3 separate regions of the Homo sapiens genome follow, and all the other regions are linked to region 1. The links come from fine-mapping of genetic effects on gene expression. A gene starts in region 1. Each other region holds a variant in brackets. All regions are shown on one strand. Distances are from middle to middle. Region 1 holds the start of RASSF3 (Ras association domain family member 3). Region 2 overlaps RASSF3 (Ras association domain family member 3). Region 3 overlaps RASSF3 (Ras association domain family member 3).

Region 1 (7,343 bases):
CAAACTCCTGGGCTCAAGCAATCCTCCCATCTCAGCCTCCCAAAGTGCTGGAATTACAGGCATGAGCTACCACACGTGGCCTAGACAGGTTTTTTAACCCTTTTCCATTTTTGTTGTTGTTCTTGTTGTTAAGAATGGGGTTTAAAGTAAGAAAAAAAATGAAAACATTTTCTTTATAAGGTTTTTGTTACTGTTGGGGATAGAAAGAAGTTGCACTATGTTCCCTTGCCTGGCAAGAGAAGAAAGAAATTTCCAGTCCACCCGCTCCCTCACCCCTTTCTCCCCATTCTGCATTTACCACAAACATCTTGTTTTCTCCGGATATTTTCAAGAAATCTAGAAACCTCATTTTTCTCACTTTTCCACCAGGTGGTACAGCATCCAAAAAAAAAAAAAATCACTGTATCTCTAATAGATCCTTCTAGCAATACCTCTCTTTCCATCTCTCTAGAGAAAGGATAAATTTCACTACTATGATGTATGTCAGAAGTGCTTATCTTATTCTTATAATCATCAGCATGAAAATGAAGAAAAAGGCTTATCTAACGTTAGATAAAAGGAACATTCTACATTAAGAGTGTTTTGCTTTATATTTATGATGTTTTACTTCCCTAATTCACCAATCTTACCAGGAATTTAAAACATTCATATCACTTCTTTAAATAAACCACAATGCTCACTAAAATTCGTAGTTTAGAACACTTTCTCTGCCTGGCAAATAACTTCTACAACTCAGCACCTTACATGTGTTATGTTAGAAGGGAAAAATATGCAGGCAATAAAGCTTCAAATACACATATGAAGCTCTTCAACCACGAACTATGTCTTCCTGTCCTGATTTCCAACACGATATTTCAAAATACATATTAATGTTAGACTAATTCTAAATGCTAAATAATACTACCCTGAGTATAATATATATGCTAGATGATACATAAATGATTGCATACAACATAGAAACAATAAATGTGCCGGGGGCGGTGGCTCACATCTGTAATCCCTGCACTTTGGGAGGCCAAGGCGGGCAGATTACCTGAGGCCAGGAGTTCGAGACCAGCCTGGCCAACATGGTTAAATCCCATCTCTACTAAAAATACAAAAATGAGCCAGATGTGGTGGTGCATGCCTGTAATCTCAGCTACTCGGGAAGCTGAGGCAAGGGAATCGCTTGAACCAGGGAAGCTGAGGTTGCAGTGAGATCACACGACTGCACTCCAGCCTGGGTAACACAGTGAGACTCCATCTCAAAAAAAAAAAAAAAAAAAGAAACGCTAAATGCATATAAACCTAGAAAAAAACTGATGTCTTTACTCTTTAAAGCACTAAAGGATTCTCATACAATTCAAACCTGAATAGTTTGGCCCTTGTGGCATCTCACCCCTGGAGAATCCAAGAACCAGCCAGTTTTCAGGAGATTAGCAGACACCTCTGGAATAAACTTCAAACTACCATGAGTTCCTTTTCATGTCAAGTGGTGAAAGCAACATAAATGAAAGGAGAAAATGCAAAACGGAGAAGGGGAAGAGAGAGGCCAAGAAAGAGAAAGCAAAAATGGAAAAAGCATAAGCAAATGCAATTTTTCTACAACCCAGGGAGGGTGGGCATGGGGGAGGAGAGGGCGTTTCCAACTTCCAAACTTCACAGCAATCTCATGCTCTCAGAACACACTCTGCTGAAAGTAAGAGATCCCACTCAAAGTGACTCGTAAATAGTGGGGCCTTAAGCCTTAGAAACAATACAAGACGGACAACTATGGCACCGGGACTTGAGATTAACTGCGGTTACTGAATAAGGGCACTTGACTTCAGCTTACCCTTCACCGTCTCCTCTCCTCCTCCTGGTTTGGGACTTAAGAGCCTGAAAAGACTAGAACTTCCGAATTTTAGAAAGAATTTTACTTCAGAAAGTGGCTAAACTTAAGAGGTCTGGCAAGACCACCCTGACAGATTGCACCCTCCCACATCCACCAAAAGAAGTTATCATCCGGCCCCTGAACGATTCTTCTTGCTTCTAGTCTCTAGGTCTCAGTCCGGTATTAATAGAAATGTTTGGCGAACGCCTGTTTTCTAAAAGCAACAAATTTGTGCCATTACAATCTTCTGTAATCTGATGTGAGCGTGGCCGGGTTGGCCCGGCTCCCCTGGTGCGGCTCCTAGTGCCAGGAGGCCGCGGGCTCTAGCACCGGGCTCCTCAGTCCAGCCGACGTGCCCCGTTTCGGGAAGGCCTCCCAAAAAACACGGCTACAGCTGGCGAAACTGGCACAAGTTCCCTTCCCATCTTTTCCCAACTCGTGCTTCCCACGGCATGCTGCCTCCAAAAAAGGAAGAAACCGGCGAAAAGGTTAGCTGTCGCTGGCTAGTATTTAGCATAGGAGCTTGTTTGCAAAACATCTGGGCACCAAAAAACCTAGCTTTACAGAAAACGCACAACCCTGAGTCCCGCAACGGAGATTTAGTGAGAGCCTATGGTGGCGAGGCCCACGGTGCCCTTGGACCCCCACTCCACCAGGTCGCCCGGGCCAGGAAGAGGGGAGGTCAGGTCACCCGGCCACCCCTAGCTATTACACGTTGACCCAAGCCACTCTGGGGGCCACAGATGAGTAAGCTGACTAACAGGAAGGACAGGCGCGCGAACCCGACCGTCGACCCAGCGGGGACGCGAAGGGGAAACCTGGGGGAGTGGCCCGGGGACGCCTGCTGGCTCCGGGGCTGCTCCCCGCAGGCGGCAGCCCGAGGCGGAGCTGCAGAGGCCATCTGGCGCGGAAGGCAGAAGCCGGCCCTCAGCCTCCCCGCCCTTCCTCCGCCTTCCCTCGCCTACACGCACAAGCTCCAGGCACGTTCCCGGGACCCGAAAAGGCAGAAGCCACTTCTCGGCCCGCTCCTCCTTCCCGGCGAGCATCCCCCGAGCGCCCCGCAGAGACACGTGGAGGCAGGGGGCGCGGGCTGGCGGGTTCCCCGGAACTCTGGGGCGCGGGCTGCAGCGCCCGCCGCGCGCCACTCACTTGTTGGCCGGAGCGGGGCTTGCCCTGGGGCGCTCTCCTGAAGAAGGAGGTCCTGGCGGTGAAGAAGAAGTCCTCGGCGTCCTCCTCCAGGCTGCTGTAGCCGCTGCTCATGCTGCCGGTCCCGTCGCGCGCGGGCGGCCTCCCCGGGGCGCAGGCGGCCAGGGAGGGGGTGCGGCGCCCGCCAGCCCCGCGAGGTTCCCGGCGCGCAGCCCCGGGCAGTCCTTATGCAGCTGCGGCCGCCGCTCAATCAGGCTCTCCCGGCCCCTCCTGCCGCCTCCCCGCCAGGCTCCAGGCGCGGCTCGGCCCCGGTGCGCCCGCGACCCCGCCTCCCTGGGCCCCGCCCCGGACGGGCGACCGGCCGAGCCCCACCCCGCGCGGCCGCGACCCTCCCCGCCCGCCCGCAGGTGGGGGGAGCCCGGCCCGCCCCTTCCAGGCGCGCGGGTTTCTCCCGACAGCGTCGCGGAACCCGGAAAGCCGGGCGCTAGGGCTGCGTCTGCTGGGGCTGTGCTCGGGTCGCTTCCTCAACCTCCCGGAAACTGCAAATTCCTCTGCGAGCCGTCCGCCCGCCCCCAGCCTCGCTGGCTCGAGTTTCGGAGAGGGCGGGAGCAGAGCGGGGAACTTTCTCTGCGTCCACTCCCTGCTCGCCCCCGCACCAGGGTCCTGTAGGGGTGGGTGGGGGTTGCCCGGCCGAGGGACCCCCCAGGTCCCACGGCTTCCTGCAGCCGCAACGCCCAGTCCTGAACCCCAGCAGCTCGCCCCTCCAGGAGGATTTCAAGTTGGCAGAGATGGGTGGGGAGGTCAAAAACTGGGTTGAGTTTATTCGAATGAAAACATCCTTTCTGGTCATTCATTTGAGCTTCGGTCTTACCCTTTTCCCCTTCTTTCTAGCGAGGGCTCACTTCCAAATAAGATCGTTATCTTAGGCGCACTCAGTGCAACTGAAAGGTGAACTAGTTCTATAGTTACAGAACAATCGAGTGCTTATCAATTAAATGTGCTTTGTAAATGTCCCCGCCACAATCAGCCTTCCACGGTCACCCACAAGGCATGGTTTAAGTGGTGGGGATAAGGAGATCAGGGAATTCCATCCATCCACGTACAAAAAAAGTTTCCATGTTTTCTAAAACTCTTCAGTCAGCTAATCCTCTTAAAGCCACCAGTGGGTAACAGTCTTTTACACCTTGGTGTTACTGCACTGATTTAAATAATACTAATTTCAAGATCTTGACTGAAAGGTTTTTTTGAAGCTGCAAGCCCTGCTATAGTTAGCGAGCTTCAGAAGAGGTTTCATTAGGAGGGGAAGAGAGACGTTAGAAAAGAGAAAATGTCCATCCATCATAGCCAAACTAGCCAAACTCTCTTACATTATCTCCTTCAATCCTCCGAGCAACTCTGCAAGGTACGTAGTGCTATTTTATGCCGGTTTTACACCTAGAGCAGCAGCTGAGGCTTAAAGAAAGGAAAGTGGCTGTAGGAGGCAGTACTCGGACCGTTCTGCTTTGCGTTCTGTTGATCTGAACGTGGTCACATACCCTACTGGGTTCTCTGCTTGGTATCGGTCAGCCGTGCTCTTTTGTGGACTACAGGAGGAAGAGTTGGACCCGAAATGACGGGAAGGAGAGAAGAATTGACTCATGAGTCATCCTACTGTCCCTAGGCTGAAAGAAGGCTTGCAAACCTGCTCCACCTTCGGGCTTACACATCCATCTTGTAAACTAGTATATATTACCCCACGTGATTCACAACAACTCCAGAAGGAGGGCCTTTGAGTTACAGCCCATTTTAAAGGTCCTACAACATTAAAGTCTTCTTCTCGGCCACACAGCTACTGAATGATAGGAAGCCAGGAATTCTAACTCCATATAGTTTCACCCAGCTTAAGCTGATCCGTGTGTGTGCCATGCACATAATCTAATGTAGGAGAATAGGGCTTTATGACAAATTTTTCTTATTTGGTTTCTCTTATTTCATTATTCAGATATAATATTAGCGCAGCTCTTATTAAATATTCCAAGGTAAGAATAATGTGTAGGTTAAGGGCTTAAATTACTCATTTTATTGTGGGTAGAAAGGGGAAAATAATTTTACCTAGAACAAGTTGAAGTTTATGAATACTTTGAGGAAAAATGCATTAAAATGCTTTATTGGCCGGGCGCGATGGCTCACGCCTGAGGAGGCAGAGGCGGGTGGATCACTTGAGGTCAGGAGTTGGAAACCAGCCTGGCCAACGTGGTGAAACCCCGCCTCTACTAAAACTACAAAAATTAGTTGGGCGTGGTAGCGTGCGCCAGCTACTCGGGAGGCTGAGGCAGGAGAATCGCTTGAACCCGGAGTGGCCTAGGTTGCAGTGACCCGAGGTGGCGCCATTGCACTCCAGTCTGGGCGACAAGAGCAAAACTTCGTCTCAATAAATAAATAAATAAACTTTATGATGCACCACACCATAAAAATGATTTTTTTCATTGTATTATTTTTAAGCTCCAAAGGACTGGATTAATTTGTATATCTGTCAGCATACCATCAGAATCAGTTATAATAAAAAGGCATGATTGAGTGGGGCACAGGGGGAAGCTGAGGTGGAGGATCACTTGAACTCAGGAGTTCCTATCCAGCCTGACCAACATAGTGAGACCTTTTCTCTAAAAAAAAATGATTTTTTTATAAAGGCATGATTAGGCCAGGCATGGTGGTTTACGCCTGTAATCCCAGCACTTTGGAAGGCCGAGGTGGGAGGATTGCTTGAAGCCAGGAGTTCAAGACCAGCCTGGGCAACAAAATGAGACCCTGTCTCTACAAAAACAAAAACAAAAAACAAAAAAAAATTAGCCAATGTGGTGTCACATGCTAGTGGTCCCAGCTACTCAGGAGGCTAGGTGGAAGGATCACTTGAGCCCAGAAGTTTGAGGCTGTAATGAACTATGATCTTACCACTGCACTCTAGCCTGGGTAACAGAGTAAGAGTCTGTCTCTTAAAAAAATAAATAAATAAAATAATTTTAAAAGCCATGATCAAATAATGAAATGGAAGCACTGCTTTTAAGCAACAAAAAAAACATAAATAAAGGAAAGGGCCGAGTGAGGTGGCTCACGCCTGTAATGCCAGCATTTTGGGAGGCTGAGGCCGGCAGATCACTTGAGGTCAGGAGTTCAAGACCAGCCTGACCAACATGGTGAAACCCCCATCTCTACTGAAAATATATAAAAAAATTAGCTGGGCATGATGGCACATGCCTGTTGTCCCAGCTATTCGGGAGGCTGAGGCAGGAGAGTCACCTGAGCCCTGGAGGCAGAGGTTGCAGTGAGCCAAGATCACGCCACTGCACTCTATCCTGGGCGACACAGGGAGACTCTGCCTCAGAAAATAAATAAATAAATAAATAAATAAAGGAAGGAAGAATTGTGATTTTGTTTCCTAAAAGCAGCATAATGATATTTGCATATTTTTCTGGTAGCTTTTTTTTTTTTTGAGACAGGGCCTCACTTTGTTGCTGGAGTGCAGTGGTGCCATGTTGGCTCACTGCAGCCTCGACTTCCCAAGCTCAAGCAATCCTCCCACCTCAGCCTCCCGAGTAGCTGGGACTACAGGCATATGCCACCAGGCCTGGCTAATTTTTATATTTTTTTTGTAGAGACAAGATCTCACTATGTTGCCCAGGCTGGTCTTGATGAACTCTTAGGCTCAAGTGATCCTCCCACCTCGGCCTCCAAAAAGGCTGGGATTACAGGTGTGAGCCACCATGCCTAGCCTGGTAGCATTTTTAATTAAAATATTGTGAATTTAAAATTTAGCTCATGAAAATTGTATCTGTAAAAATTCAAAATGTCATGTTAAGCAACTAGACACTTTTAACATTTCAAATTCAGGGAAGGGGGTGGAATAAATAAAATTAAATGTATGCAACCAAGTTCAAGTTTTGTTTTGTTTTTTTGAGACGCAGTCTCACTCTGTCACCCAGGCTGGAGTGCAGTGCTATGATCTCAGCTCACTGCAACCTCTGCCTCCCGGGTTCAAGCGATCCTCCCGCCTCAGCCTCCCGAGTAGCTAGGATTACAGGCACGCACCGCCTCACCCGGCCAATTTTTGTATTTTTAGTAGAGACAGGGTTTCACCATGTTGGCCAGGCTGGTCTCAAACTCCTGACCTCAGGTGATCTGCCTGCCTTGGCTATCACTGACTCTTATGTGACCTTTAACAATTTAATTAACTTCTCTATGCCTCAGGTTCATCAGCAGCAAAATGGGGATGACAATGTCTTCATTTTATTTTCTTTGGTTTACTGTAAGGATTAAGTGAAAGAATCCAGGCAAAGTCCTTGGCATAGAATAGGATCAAGCAAATATT
Region 2 (7,343 bases), 23 kb before region 1:
AGTGGCTCATGCCTGTAATCCCAGCAATTTGGGAGGCCAAGGTGGACAGATAGCCTGAGGTCGGGAATCCAAGACCAGCCTGGCAACATGGCAAAACCCTGTCTCTAATAAAAATATAAAAATTAGCCAGGCGTGGTGGTGCATGCTTGCAATGGGAGCCTTGGGAGGCTGAGCGGGGAGGATTGCTTGAACCTGGCAAGCGGGGGTTGAAGTAAGCAGAGATCGCACCACTGCACTCTAACCTGGGCAACAGAGTGAGACTCCATATCAGAAAAAAAAAAAACCGTAAGTTATAATAAACCCACAGAAACCCCCAACTTCTTTGGAATTGTGAGCCACTCTCATTACAATCATTATCATTTCCACCCATATTGTACATGCATATTTTTAAATAACAATGAATGTAATCAGTATGTTCATAAGAAATATAGTTTCGGAATTTCAGGGTAACACTTGACATAAAAAAGAGATACTGCCTATTTTCATAATCTGGTTCCCATCCCCCTCTCTATCCTCACCTTCTACTATTTGACTTCAAACTAGTCCGTCTAGGCTTACTTTAACCATAACCTTTTAATGTCCCTTCCCATTGTCCCTTGACCCTCACAGCCCAGGCTCCACACACATGCACAAAGTCCTCATCCCCTCATCTTCAATAACACAACAGTCACCCTAACTAGGCTGCAGCTTCCCCTCTTCTTACCGCTTTTTAAAAGCCTGTGCTCTCACACCAGACCACCCAGTTTCTAACGTTGGTTAATCTAATTACCAGCTACTATTTAACCTCTCTGTGCCTCTTCTAATAACTGTACCACATCACAGAGTTGGTGTGAGAATGAGATGAATCAGTATGGGTAAAAGGTATTGCAAGTGTACCATAAATGTGAGCCATCCTTATCAACAGCAGCGTGCTCTTCACTGCCCTTACACAGACATTGACAGTGGTCATTAAATGGCTCTTTATGACTTTCCACTAGCCCATGTGCTAGAAGGCAGAGCTACTAGCTTACTCCTCTTTGAATTCCCAGAGAAAACCACAGCAATGGGTATTAGACAGGCACGTAATAAATGTGTGATACTATAAAACAGGAATACAGATACGAGGGGTCATCAAAAATTTCAAGGAAAATGAATATTATGAAAAAACTACGGCCAGGCATGGTGGCTCATGCCTGTAATCCCAGCATTTTGGGAGGCTGAAGCAGATGGATTGCTTGAACTCAGGAGCTTGAGACCAGCCTTGGAAACATGTCAAAACCCTATCTCTCCAAAAAATACAAAAATTAGCCAGGTGTAGTGGTATGTACCTGTAGTCCTAGCTACTCAGGAGGCTGAGGTGGGAAAAGGGTGACAGAGGTTGCAGTGAGCCAAGACTGCACCACTGTATTTCAGCCTGGATGACAGAGATAGATCTTGTCTCAAAAAAAAAAAAAAAAGAAAAGAAAAGAAAAGAAAAAGAAGAAACTATGCATGGATTTGAAAAATTTTTTGCACCAAAATAAACTTGTACTAACTTGTCATAACATGTCTGAGCAAAACCTAGTTTGAGGCACTAAGAAGGATAAACATCAGTTTGAAAAGAGCCCCTATCAGAGCAACATAAATTCTGCTAATTTTTTTTTTTTTTTTTTTTTTTTTTTTATGAGATGGTGTCTCGCTGTGTCGTGCAGGCTGGAGTGCAATGGTGCCATCTCGGCTCACTGTAAACTTTGCCTGCCAAATTCAAGCGATTCTCATGCTTCAGCCTCCGGAGTAGCCGAGAATACAGGTGCCTGTCACCACGCAGGGCTAGAATTCTGCTAAAATTGAAGCAAAAACAAACATCAAATTTATGGTGAAGCTTGGGCAGAATGGTGAAATCACTGTTGCTTTTTGAAAAGTTTGTGGGGACAATGCCCCCCAAAAATCAGCAGTTTTCAAGTGGATAACCCTTCAAGAAGTGCCGGGTGCAGTGGCTCACACATGTAATCCCAGTTGGGAGGCTGAGGAGGATCACTTGAGCTCAGGAGTTCAAGACCAGCCTGGATAACATAGTAAGAACTCATTTCTATGAAAAAATGAATTTTTTTTTCAAAGTAGGAAAAAAAAAAAAAGGACAAGATGATGTTGAAGATAAAGCTCACAGCAGCAGACCCTCTGTGTCAATTTGCAAGAAAAAGGTTAACCTTGTTCATCTCCTAGTTTAAGAGAACTAATGATTAACAGCAGAAACAACAGCCAACACCATAGACATCTCAACTAGTTCAGCTCACACAATTCTTGTTTGTTTGCTTGATACAGGGTCTGGCTGTCACCCAGGCTGGAGTGCAGTGACTCATACTGGCTCACTGCAAACTCTGCCTCCCAGGCTCAAGCCATCTTCCCACCTCAGCCTCCCCAGTAGCTGGGACTACAGGGACATGTCACCATGCCCAGCTAATTTTTGTATTTTTTGTAGAGATACAGTTTTGCCACTTTGTCCAGGGTGGTCTCAAACTCCTGAGCTCAAGCAATCCTCCCACCTCAGCCTCCCAAAGTGCTGACTATAGGCGTGAGCCACCCCACTTGGTCCATATTTCTATCAGCATTTTGGTCAAATTTAATCAGTCTCTAAGAAGTTCCAAAACTTTCCCTTGTCTTCCTGTCTTCTTCTGACCCCTCCAAACTCTTCTAATCTCTGCCTATTACCCAGTGCCAAAGCCAGTTCCACATTTTCAGGTATCTTTATTGCGATGCCCCTCTCCTGGTACCAATTTTCTGTGTTTGTCTTTTCTTCATTGCTATAAAAGAGTATCTGAGGCTAGGTAATTTATAAAGAAAAGAGGTTTATTTTGGCTCACAGTTCTGTTGGCTGCACAGGAAACATGGCACCAACATCTGCTCCTGGTGAGGACCTCAGGAGGACCTCAGGAGGTGAAAGGAAAAGGGGAAGCAGGTGGTCACATGGCAGGAGAGGGAACAAGAGAGAGAGGAGGAGGTGCCAGGCTCTTTTTAAACAACCAGCTCTCACGTGAACAGAGTAAGAACTCACATATCACCAAGGAGGTGGTACTAAGCCATTCATGAGGGATCCATCCCCATAATCCAATACCTCCCACTAGGCCCCAACTCCAACATTGTGGATCACGTTTCAACATAAGATTTGAAGGCAACACACATCCAAACCGTATCAGTATCCACTGGTGTCAAAACCAGAGAATAATTAATGCAGTGTCACCACACTCAAAACATATGTTTCATCTTCAAAGACTTTTCAAAAACATAACCAGCTAGTCCCTGTCAGTCCTCTGAAGTCTCTTATCAAAAGGAATAAACAAAATGATTGAAGAAACAGATTTTAACCTGATAGGAAAAAAAACAAATAGAGCCAGATCAAGATAACAGCATTTCTATTGAAACTGCTTAGATTTATTTTCTAGCTTATTCTAGATGTGCTAATTTTGAGCTATTTGTGGAGCACCACCACATTCTGGTCTTCAAAGACTTTTTTTCTAAGAAAGTTAAAAATACACTCAAATGGTCTGTGAAGTTTACTCTTCCAGTCCATATCCACATCAAGATTTATTTTTCTCTTGTTATTTCAAATAAATCTCAACCACTTCCAATTCAAGGATGATGATCTCATGCTTCCATGAGATCTGAGGTCTGTCCTGAGCTTCAGACCCTTAATTCTGGCTGCAGCTGGATGCTACACAAATGTTGCGTATAGGCCCTAAAACCGAGTTGTTCCCCTACCTCACTAAACCTGTTCCTCTTCCTCCCGTGCTCCCCATTCCACAGTGGCATGGCCATCCTCCCACCCAGCCACCTTCCATACCTCCTTCTTTTCTCTCGTCTCCTTCCTTGCCTCCCCTCACCCTGG[T/C]CGATCAGGTGCCAATGTGACAACTCAATTTCTGGAGTCCTTCTCTCTCCCACTGCAACTATCCTATTTCTAGCCCTAATTACCTTCACCCAGGTTACCGCAATCACCTTCCAAACAATATCCCTACCCCTCTTGCCCTCTAAACTCTGCTGTCAGTTTTAAAATCATAGGTCTGACCACTTTATTTCTCCCTAAGTGGCTCCTCCTTACTCACAAAATATTCAATCCTCAGGCTGGCAAGCACGGCCTTTCAGAGCCTGCCAACCCTCCCTCCTTTCCAGCGTAGTTTTTCACCACACCTTTGGCGTGGCAACCTTTGCTGCAGCCATACCACCACTTGGTCCCAAATACCCCAGCACTCCCCTCTTCTGGCCCGGTGCCTGCCTGTGTGGGCTTCTCTTCATGCACCACTCCCACATGTGCATACCCACCTCCTCCATCAATATCCACCTGCCACCAACTGAAAGGCCTAGTCACCCCCTCTTGTATTATATACACATTTCTAGATTGAACTTCTCCTCCACTCAACGATGGGAGAGACGTCTTCTTTCTAAGCAGCCTTCTACTTAGAATCCAAATATCATCCCTTCCAGTGCGAAGGGAGGCATCTCTTTCAATGATCCTCACTCCCCTGACACTCAGTCTTCTTTCCATTGAAGTCCTCTCATCTAAAAATAAATAAAAAACAGGCCGGGTATGGTGGCTCTCCCCTGTAATCCCAGCACTTTGGGAGGCCGAGGTGGGCGGATAACCTGAGGTCAGGAGGTTGAGACGAGACCAGCCTGGCCAACATGGCAAAACTCCATCTCTACTAAAAATACAAAAATTAACTGGGTGTGGTAGCAGGTGCCTGTAATCCCAGCTACTTGGGAGGCTGAGGCAGGAGAATCTTGAACCCGGGAGACAGAGGTTGCAGTGAGCAGAGATTGCACCACTGCACTCCAGCCTGGGCGACAGAGCAAGACTATGTCTCAACATACATACATACATACATACATACATACATACATACATACATACATACATTACATACGATGACAACACCCTTACCACTTCCCTCGCCCTTGTAGGCTCCTCATTTTACTACACCATCCTCTCCTTGCCAGACAAGCCTCACGGAAGAGCACCTCTACTCACTCTCCTGCTTCCTCTGCACTATTCACTCACCACCCACTGCAGTGTGACTGTACGCCTCCAGTTCACTGGAGTGGCTCTCCTCAAGGTCTCCAGAGACTGCCACACAGTTCCACCCCAGGCCTTCTTGGCTTTTCTGAAGCACTTGTCCCATGGCCAAGCCCTTGTTCTTGAGGTGGTCCCAACCTCCGATCCCAGGACAACCACCCTTTTCTTTTTCTCCAGCTTCTCTGACCACTCCTTGGTTCCTCCATGGACATGCCCTTCTCTGCCCACTTCTTACCTGCTGGTGCCCCCATGCTTCTGTGGTATCCTCCATGCTTCTGTCTAAAGACACCTTTTTTGCTTTACACACATAGTTCATCTAAGCCCATGACTTCAACGAATCCTGAAGCTCTCTCTGCAGACCAGGTCTACCTTCTTGATAAGAAACTCCAGAAACTTTGATAGCCCACAGACATCTCAAAACACACATGCCCAGATTTACTCACTCAAAATTTATTGACTGCCTGGTGTATGCCATATATTGATTGCCTGAATGTGTCTTCCCTCCTAAACCTGATCTTTCTTCTTACTTGATTTCTTGGTGAGTGGCTGCTTGCTAGCACCATCTTCCAAGGCTCCCAAACCAGAAACCTACAACTCTTCCTTGACTCCTCTTTCTCACCACCTCTCTGCCCACATTCAGTGTTACTAATGCCTCCCAATTAACCAGTATCTCCAACCCAGCCCCTCCTCTACTTCATCCCCACATTCATGCCTTCATTCCATTTTAATAACTAAACATCTACTGAGAACTAGCTATAACTCATTCCTGAGTAGGCATATGATCACATGTCCTGGGAGTAAAAAGAACAGTTCAGGATTTCTAAGCACCCTTTTTTTAAATTTCGTTTTGTTTTTGAGATAGGGTCTGTCTCTGTCATTCAGGCTACAGTGCAGTGGTGTGACCATAGCTCACTGCAGCCTCAAACTGCTAAGCTCAAGCAAACCTCTTGCCTCAGCCTCCCAAATAGCTGGGACTACAGGCACAAACCACCATATTTGGATAATTTCTCTTTTTTCAGTAAAGACAATGTCTCGCTCTGTTGCCCAGTCTGGTCTCAAACTCCTGGGCTTAAACAATCCTCCTGCCTCAGCCTCCCAAAGTGCTGGGATTACAGGCATGACCCACCATGGCCTTGCTAATTTTTAACTTTATATCTCTTTTTTGGATGACAAAAATTATACATATGGCAGCCCACATTTTCCCTTTTGATGAATGAAAAATCTTAAAATCAATGAGTGCTTACATGAGTGGAATGCCTATGTGTAAATTCAGAGGTACTTCAAATATTTCATAACTGAAACATTTAGGATCTGGGAATTTGGTGCTGTTATTTGCCACAAAATGCAAACAACCTTTTAGTTCACATAAACCATTTTTCTTTCTTGTTCTTTTTTTCTTTTTCTTTTTTTTTTTTTTTTGAGATGGAGTCTTGCTCTGTCACCCAGGCTGGAGTAGTGGCACAATCTCAGCTCACTGCAACCTCCACCTCCCAGGTTCAAGTGATTCTCCTGCCTCAGCCTCCCGAGTAGCTGGGATTACAGGCGCACACACCATGCCCAGCTAATTTTTGTATTTTTAGTAGAGATGGGGTTTCATCACGTTGGCCAGGCTGGTCTCAAACTCCTGACCTCAGGTGATCCACCCACCTCGGCCTCCCAAAGTGCTGGGATTACAGGCATGAGCCACCGCGCCTGGTCCACATAAACCATTTTTATACAACACTCATTTTCATAGGCCAACTTTTCCAATTAAAACAAACATAATATGTGAGCAGCTACCAAAATCAGCTATTTCTTCATATTATCACATTACATATAAAAATCCACCACAGAATTTCAGGACTACTAGGATCTGTTTAATGAAAAGGGCAGGAGTTGCTAGAAAAATAATTTTTTATGATTTTCATAACATATCAAAAGGTTGTATAATTATGCATTTAAGTATAGTCCTTCTAGCTGGAAGAATAGCAGTGGGACGGGCGCAGTGGCTCATGCCTATAATCCCAGCACTTTGGGAGGTCAAGGCAGACAGACGGCTTGAGCCCAGGTGTTTGAGACCAGCCTGGGCAATGCTGTGAAACCCCATCTCTACAAAAAAAAAAATACGAAAAATTAGCTGGGTGTGGTGGCACGTACCTGTAGTCCTAGCTACTCGGGAGGCTGAGGTGGGAGGATTGCTTGAACCCATAGGCAGAGGTTGCAGTGAGCCAAAGTCACGCCACTGTACTCCAGCCTGGACGACAGAGTGAGACCTTGTCTTAAAAAAAAAAAAAAGAAAATTAGTCGGGTGTGGTGGTCTGCACCTGTGATCCCAGCTACT
Region 3 (7,343 bases), 38 kb before region 1:
GTTATCCCAGCACTTTGGGAGGCCAAGGCAGGAGGATTGCTTGAGCCCAGTCTGAGAACAGCCTGGGCAACATGGTGAAACCCCATGTCTACAGAAAAATGCAAGAATTAGCCAGGTGTGGTGGCGTGCACATGTGGTCCCAGCTACTCAGGAGATTGAGGGTGAAGGATCACCTGAGCCTGGGAAGTCGAGGTTGCAGTGAGCTGTGACTGCACCCCTGCACTCCATCCTGGGTAACAGTGAGACCATGTCTCAACAAACAAAAACAACAACAACCAGCCAGGCATGGTGGCTTATGCCTGTAATCCCAGCACTCTGGGAGGCCGAGGAGGGTGAATCACTTGAGGTCAGGAGTTCAAGACCAGCCTGGCCAACATGGTGAAACACTGCCTCTACTAAAAATTCAAAAATCACCCGGGTGTGGTGGCAGGCGCCTGTAATCCCAGCTACATGGGAGGCTGAGGCAAGAGAATCACTTGAACCCGGGAGGTTGGAGGTTGCAGTGAGCCAGTATCAAGCCACTGCACTCCAGTCTGGGCAACAGAGTGAGACTTCATCTCAAAAATAAAAACAAAAACATTAAGTGGGCAACCTTAAAAATAACTTCTTAACATATGTTAACATACGCATCTCCAGGCACCATTGTCATTATCATTTTTATTGTCTCTCCACATATCTTGGGACTTAAACTAGGTAAGCTACAAAATTTCCTGACATTTAGTTGTAACTAAATTTTTTTTTAAAAGAGGGGACACGAGAGAGGCACAGCCCATTAAGACACTGATTTTTCTATTACTAGATGTGTCTGAAATGCAGTAACATATCCTTAGTAAGTCAGCTCTGTATATGGTCATATGGCACTTTCAAACACTAATCTCAAATCTATTTATATCAAATGCAGCCAAGCACACACAGCAAACAGATCTTGGAAACCACTTTACAAGCCTGTAAGAAATCAGTGTTGGTCACAGTAGAGGCAAAAGGCAAAGAGCCAGCCATACAATCGCGCATGCACAAGTCATAAAGTTTATAGCAAAGTGTGACTAAAAGTAAATACTCGGTGCAAGGGTTTTCCAATGAGGATGATACAGCTTAGGCAAAAATGTGTAAGATTCAACACGAAACATCTAAGACAGCAATTCCCTTTAGTGAAACCATTGTTTAAGGTACAGGAAAAGACTTTTTTTAAGACTCCTAAAAATCCTTTAGAAATAAACAACTCGGCCAGGCGCGGTGGCTCACGCCTGTAATCCCAGCACTTTGGAAGTCCAAGGCGGGCAGATCACAAGGTCAGGAGTTCGAGACCAGTCTGGCCAACATAGTGAAACCCCGTCTCTACTAAAAATACAAAAAATTAGCTGGGTGTGGTGGCGCGCACCTGTAATCCCAGCTACTTAGAAGGCTGAGGCAGAAGAATCCCGTGAACCTGGGAGGCAGAGGTTGCAGTGAACCCAGACTTGCACCATTGCACTCCAGCCCAGGTAACAGTGCAAGACTCTGTCTCAAAAAAAAAAAAAAAAAAAAAAAAGGAAAAAAAAAGAAACACCTCCTGGCTGAGGACAACTATCACTGAGGTCATCACTGAGCACAGCACAAAGGTCCTATCAAGGACCTGTCAAGGTCCTGTCATGGCAGCGCTGCTTCAGGCTTGCCTTGAGGCACTGCTTCCTCTTTGGCATGGAGATAATCGAATTTGTTTATCAAATTGGCCAATGACATCTGGGAGGGTAAGCCAGATCACAGGCTCAAACAGGGTGAATCCAAGATAGAATTAAAGGCACATTTAAAGTTTATACTGGGGATCCCCTGTCCCTGCCCCTGCAAATACATGCGTGTATCATCTACATGACAAGAGACAAATAAATGGTCCCACTAAACAATGCTGGTGCGTAAATTTGGGGTTGCCTTATTTGAAAAGCAATACTGGCAAAGAGCAACAGTTCAGAGGGAATCATAACAAAGGCTCTGAAAACTACACAAGAGCATACTGGGGATGTTAGTGTGGGAAAAAGGAAAACTGGGAGAAACAGTAAAAAGTGTCTTTATAATCGTAAAGAATATCATGTATAGGGTGGGCTGGCCTTGTGCTCCCTGCAAGGCCCACACTGTGAAAGCTATTCAGGGAGACCGTTTAGTTTATTTCACCAAAGAGCTTTTCTGATCCTCAAAATTGCCCACAAATGGCTTGCCCAAAGAAGTTGGCACACTCTTTGTTTTGGAAGTGTTAAGCATGACGACTTTGGAAACAAGATCTTTTCGAGACATTTGACACTGATAACTTGGCTATCGAGACGGCATGATTTTTCCTGAGTTCCCTGAGAACTCAGAGATATGACTATGTCCTAACCGGGTACCCTAGGACCATTTTCCTCACTGCTTCTTACCTGCAGAGTGGGCAGAGAATATGCACTAGAAGCCAAGGTGCTTTTAAAAATCCAGATGGCTGGCCAGGCGCAGTGGCTCATGCCTGTAATCCCAACACTTTCGGAGGCCAAGGCAGACGGATCACAAGGTCAGGAGATTGAGACCATCCTGGCTAACACGGTGAAACCCTGTCTCTACTAAAAATACGAAAAATTAGCCGGGTGTGGTGGCGGGTGCCTGTAGTCCCAGCTACTCCAGAGGCTGAGGCAGGAGAATGGAGTGAACCCGGGAGGCGGAGCTTGCAGTGAGCCGAGATCGCGCCACTGCACTCCAGCCTGGGCGACAGAGCGAGACTCCATCCCAAAAAAAGAAAAAAAAAAACCCAGATGGCTGCTGAGACCCCAAGAACACCAATTAGAAGCTCCAGGGTCAGACCAAGCCAGAGGGTTTTCAAGAGCTGTATGAGTAGCTGGACTCATTCCTTTACTTTAATCCCAGCACCCTGAGAGGCCAAGGCAGGAGGATCGCTTGAGGCCATGAGTTTGAGACCAGCTGGGCAACATAATGAGACCCTGTCTCTACAAAACATTTTTTAAATCATTAGCCGGGCATGGTGGCACACACCTATAGTCCTAGCTACTCGGTAGGCTGAGGGGTGAGGATCACCTGAGTCCAGAAGTTGGAGGTTACAGTAAGCCAACACTGTACTACTGCACTCCAGCCTGGGTAACAGATCGAGCCCCTATCTCTAAAAAAAAAAAAAAAAAAAATCAATGTAAAAACAAGAAGCTTGGCCGGGCTTGGTGGCTCATCCTTGTAATCCCAGCACTTTGGGAGGTCGAGGCAGGCGGATCACAAGGTCAAGAGATCGAGACCATCCTGGCTAACATGATGAAACCCCGTCTCTACTAAAAATACAAAAATTAGCTGGGTGTTGTGGCGCATGCCTGTAGTCCCAGCTACTTGGGAGGCTGAGGCAGGATAATCGCTTGAATCCAGGAGGTGGAGGTTGCAGTGAGCCAGGAACGTGCTCCATCTCAAAAAAAAAAAAAGCTTTATGAGTGATTCTGACACCACACCCACCGCTGGTTAACCCACTATGCCCTAGAGCTCTAGCCGGGAGCCTCTGTCTATTCCCATAGCTCCTACAACCAGTTTTGTGAGTCCCATGTCCATTTTCTCCAGCCCAGATATACCTCCCAGCTAGCCTTCAGTCCCACATGATGGACATCCTACTGCAAGTTCTCCATCAGCCTCTCCACCTCCACATGCTGCCACACCACTGCCCAACTAATCGTCCAGCGGGAAATGCCTCAAAAGGCCACAAGGCCTGACATTCAAGAGTCTCCCTGACCTGGTCCAAATCTGGGGCCACCTACTCACTAAGTTTATGCCTGTCACACATGTACCCACCAAACAGAAGTATCTGCAATTTGAGGCACAAATTCTATCTCCACCCACTGGCCCAACTCCTAGTGTTCACATGTCTATGATCCAGCCACTTTGCAAAGCACAGCTCAAA[C/T]ATCTTCTGCTACACAAAGGCTGGTACCACCAACAGCCCCAGCACTTCCTCAGGACCTGTCCTCTGTACTTTCCATAGATGTCATGGCTGAACATATGCATTTCTAATCTTGGGTGCTATACACAGTGCTCTTGAAGGTTGGACCTATTTCTCATTTATTCTATTTTATAAGCCTCAAAGGGCCTAAAAACAACCTTGGGAGGCTGGGGACAGTGGCTCATGCCTGTAACCCCAGCACTTTGGGAGGCTGAGATGGGAGGACTGCTTGAGCCCAGGAGTTGGAGACCATCCTGGGCAACAGGGCAAAACCCTGTCTCTATAAAAAAAAATACAAGGCCGGGGCCGGGCGCGGTGGTTCATGCCTGTAATCCCAGCACTTTGGGAGGCCGAGGTGGGCAAATCATGAGGTCAGGAATTCGAGACCAGCCTGGCCAACATGGTGAAACCCCGTCTCTACTAAAAAATACAAAAAATTAGCCGGGCGTGGTGGTGGATGCCTGTAATCCCAGCTACTCTGGAGACTGAGACAGGAGAATCACTTGAAATCGGGAGGCGGAGGTTGCAGTGAGCCAAGATCATGCCATTGCACTCCAGCCTGGGCAACAGTGCAAGACCCCGTCTCACCAAAAAAAAAAAAAGAAAAAAAAATTAGCCGAGCATGGTGGTGTGTGCCTGCAATCCCAGCTGCTCAGGAAGATCACTTGAGCCTGGGAGGCTGAGCCTGCAGTGAGCCATGATCGTGCCACGGCACTCCAGTCTTGGTGACAGAGTGAGGCTCTGTCTTAAAAAAAATAAAATAAATAAATAAATAAATAAAACCCTTGCTGAGAAAAACAACTATGGGTTTCATTTATCTTTTACCAGAACTGGGGTGCCAGGAGGTGGAGGGATTCTCAGTTTAAAAGATAAAAGAAATTGGGTTAGTAAATCCTAACTACATAGAGATCATTTTTATTAATAATCATAAGAAAGGGGCCTAATTCCATCCTTTGTAGTTAGACAGACCTAGATTAAAATTCTAGCTTCTGCACTTACTAGCTAGATAAACTTGGGCAAATTACTTAACCTCTCAAAGCTTTAGCTTCTTCATCTATAAAATGGGGATAGCAAAGATACATATACTTTATTGGGTCATGATAGAAAGTAAATGAACTAAGGAATACAAATCACTTCTCACAGAGCCTGACCCAGAGGAGGCCCTCAGTAACCGCTACAGTTGTTATTATTACCAGATCTGCAAAATGTACACACAGGCATATTATTCCTGGGTCTTTCACTCTATTTCAACAGAAAAAAAAAAAAAATGGAGAGAGAAACCAAACACTGATCCCTTTTGAAGTATGAGGTTTTCCATAGGAATTTGCAGTGATTTTTTAATATTTCAGCATGAATATAAGAGGGGAGAAGAAGAACATAAGCATAATTAGACTAGAATTTGGACAATGTTAACTTACAGTAGATGGGTAGGGAGGGTCCATTCAGAAATTATTTTTGGTTGTCATTGAAATAAATACTACATCTGAATAAGATGCTGAGCAAAGCTTTAGGCTATGTATTGGTTATTCATCTTCATCCCACCCAACTTGCACTAATCAGAAACTTCCTTGGGAGTTCCTTTCTCCTGTAAGTGAGGGTGCTTCCTACTTGAAGACACAATTAAAAATGGAACAACTAAAGAGACTGTTAGCAAGGATGTGGAGAAAACAGAACTCTCATCCATTGCTAGTGGGCATGTACGTCAGTCTAACACAGTTAGAAAACTGGTAATATCTACTAAAGCCAATGATACACCTACTCTACAATGCAGTAATTCCACTCTTAGGTATATATATAGCCAAGAAAAATGAAGGGTTATGTCCACCAAAGGACACGTTCTACAAGAATGATCAAAGCAGCTGATTGACAATCCAAATGTTCATCAAGAGAATGGATAAATAATGATATATTCAAACAATGTAATATTTTACAACAATGAAGAATTACTGATATATGCAATAACATGGATGAATCTCAATGTGTGGCACTGACTTGGGCAAAAGATGTCAGCTGCAAGAGTGCATACTGCATGATTTTACTTATATGAAGTTCAAGATGCGGCAACATTAACTCAGGGTGATAAAAGTCAGACTAGTGGTTCTAGCCAAGGGCTGGGGAGATTACTGATTGTGAACAGTCACATAGGAACCTTCCTGGGTAACAGAAATGTACTGCATTTCTACATCTGGGTGGTAGTTAAACATAGAGACTCATTAGATTGTACAATTAAGATTTGTGCATTTTATTGTATATAAGTGATACCCCAATTTTTAAAAATTCAAAAGAATATCTACACAAATAAACATTGATACAACATGCCCCATTCTTAACCTCAGGAGTAAAACTATTTTTCTTTTTCTCTTTTTTTGGTAAGGATGGGAAGACAGGATAGAAGGCTAGTAATACAAACTTTGGCTTAATGAAACAGAATACACACCTAAAGCACACAAACTTCTCAAAATAAAAAAAAATTTCTTTATTTTTAAAATTTTATAATTTAAAAAGATAGAGACAGGGTCTCACTATGTTGCCCAGGCTGGTCTCAAACTCATGGCTTCAAACCATCCTCCCACCTCAGCCTCCCAAAGTGTCATGCCTCGCCAAAGTGAAAATATGAGCTGCCATGCCTCACCAAAGTGAAAATATTTCTTAAGGATAAATTCATCTCTCATGTACTTTATCCTATAAATGAGGGTGATAATAGAACCTCCCTCATAGAGTTACTGTGATGATACACATATTCAATACATATTCATCACTTAATACATTAATTAATGAATACAATACATATTCATTACTTAATAATGGTTTGCCAAAATTATTTGTTCATTTCCTTCAGTCCTTTTGATCCACTCCACAAAAATTCACAACCTGGCAGGTGTTCAATATTTGTTGAAAAAATTCAGAAAATCTCTCTCAGCATGCAAACCATAAATAATTCCCACCTTAATCCATAAGAAAGTCCTCAGGCTGTCACCAAGGCTGGAGTGCAGTGGCGTGATCATGGCTCACTGCAGCCTCAACCTCCCAGGCTCAAGTGATTCTCCACAGTAGCTGGGACTACTGGCACACGGCACCATGCTAAGCTAATTTTTTTATTTTTTATTTTGTAGAGACAGGTTTTGCTGTCTCTACACAAAAATGTGTTAGGGCTTCTCACACTAACATAGACACAAACCTCTGGGTATTCCCAGGTATCCTGGAAGTAACAGGATAAACATGGCATATGTATCTGAGGACATTCTACTTAAAAATTGACAGGAAAACCACACATATACATATACATTATATATATTTTTGTTTGTTTGTTTGTTTTTGGTTGGAGACAGGGTCTCTGCTGCCCAGGCTGGAGTGTAGTGATGCAAACACAGCTCACTGCAGCCTCAACCTCCTGGGCTCAGGTGATCTTCCCACCTTAGCC

The links. PIP is the estimated chance that this variant, and not a neighbour inherited with it, causes the effect.
Region 2: its variant is the best candidate, but not a certain one, in a credible set for the expression of RASSF3 in whole blood (INTERVAL, PIP 0.76).
Region 3: its variant is the best candidate, but not a certain one, in a credible set for the expression of RASSF3 in atrial appendage (GTEx, PIP 0.73).

What each region holds. Positions count from the first base shown.
Region 1 is chr12:64,606,402-64,613,744 of GRCh38, reverse strand. It overlaps RASSF3 (Ras association domain family member 3), which reads right to left and starts at 3,250. Exons shown (of 5, transcript NM_178169.4): 1 at 3,002-3,250. The coding sequence starts at 3,112. RASSF3-DT (RASSF3 divergent transcript) reads left to right here and starts at 4,279. Exons shown (of 2, transcript NR_187549.1): 1 at 4,279-4,400. RefSeq lists silencers at 2,721-2,790, 3,001-3,520, 3,681-3,750 and enhancers at 4,381-4,440, 4,661-4,710.
Region 2 is chr12:64,629,061-64,636,403 of GRCh38, reverse strand. All of the region lies in intron 1 of RASSF3 (Ras association domain family member 3), which reads right to left. Among named protein-coding and RNA genes, the nearest start is that of MIR548Z, 10 kb to the right of the region's middle. The variant T/C (reference allele first, on the strand shown) is at 3,842.
Region 3 is chr12:64,644,594-64,651,936 of GRCh38, reverse strand. All of the region lies in intron 1 of RASSF3 (Ras association domain family member 3), which reads right to left. Among named protein-coding and RNA genes, the nearest start is that of MIR548Z, 26 kb to the right of the region's middle. RefSeq lists an enhancer at 3,467-4,190. The variant C/T (reference allele first, on the strand shown) is at 3,887.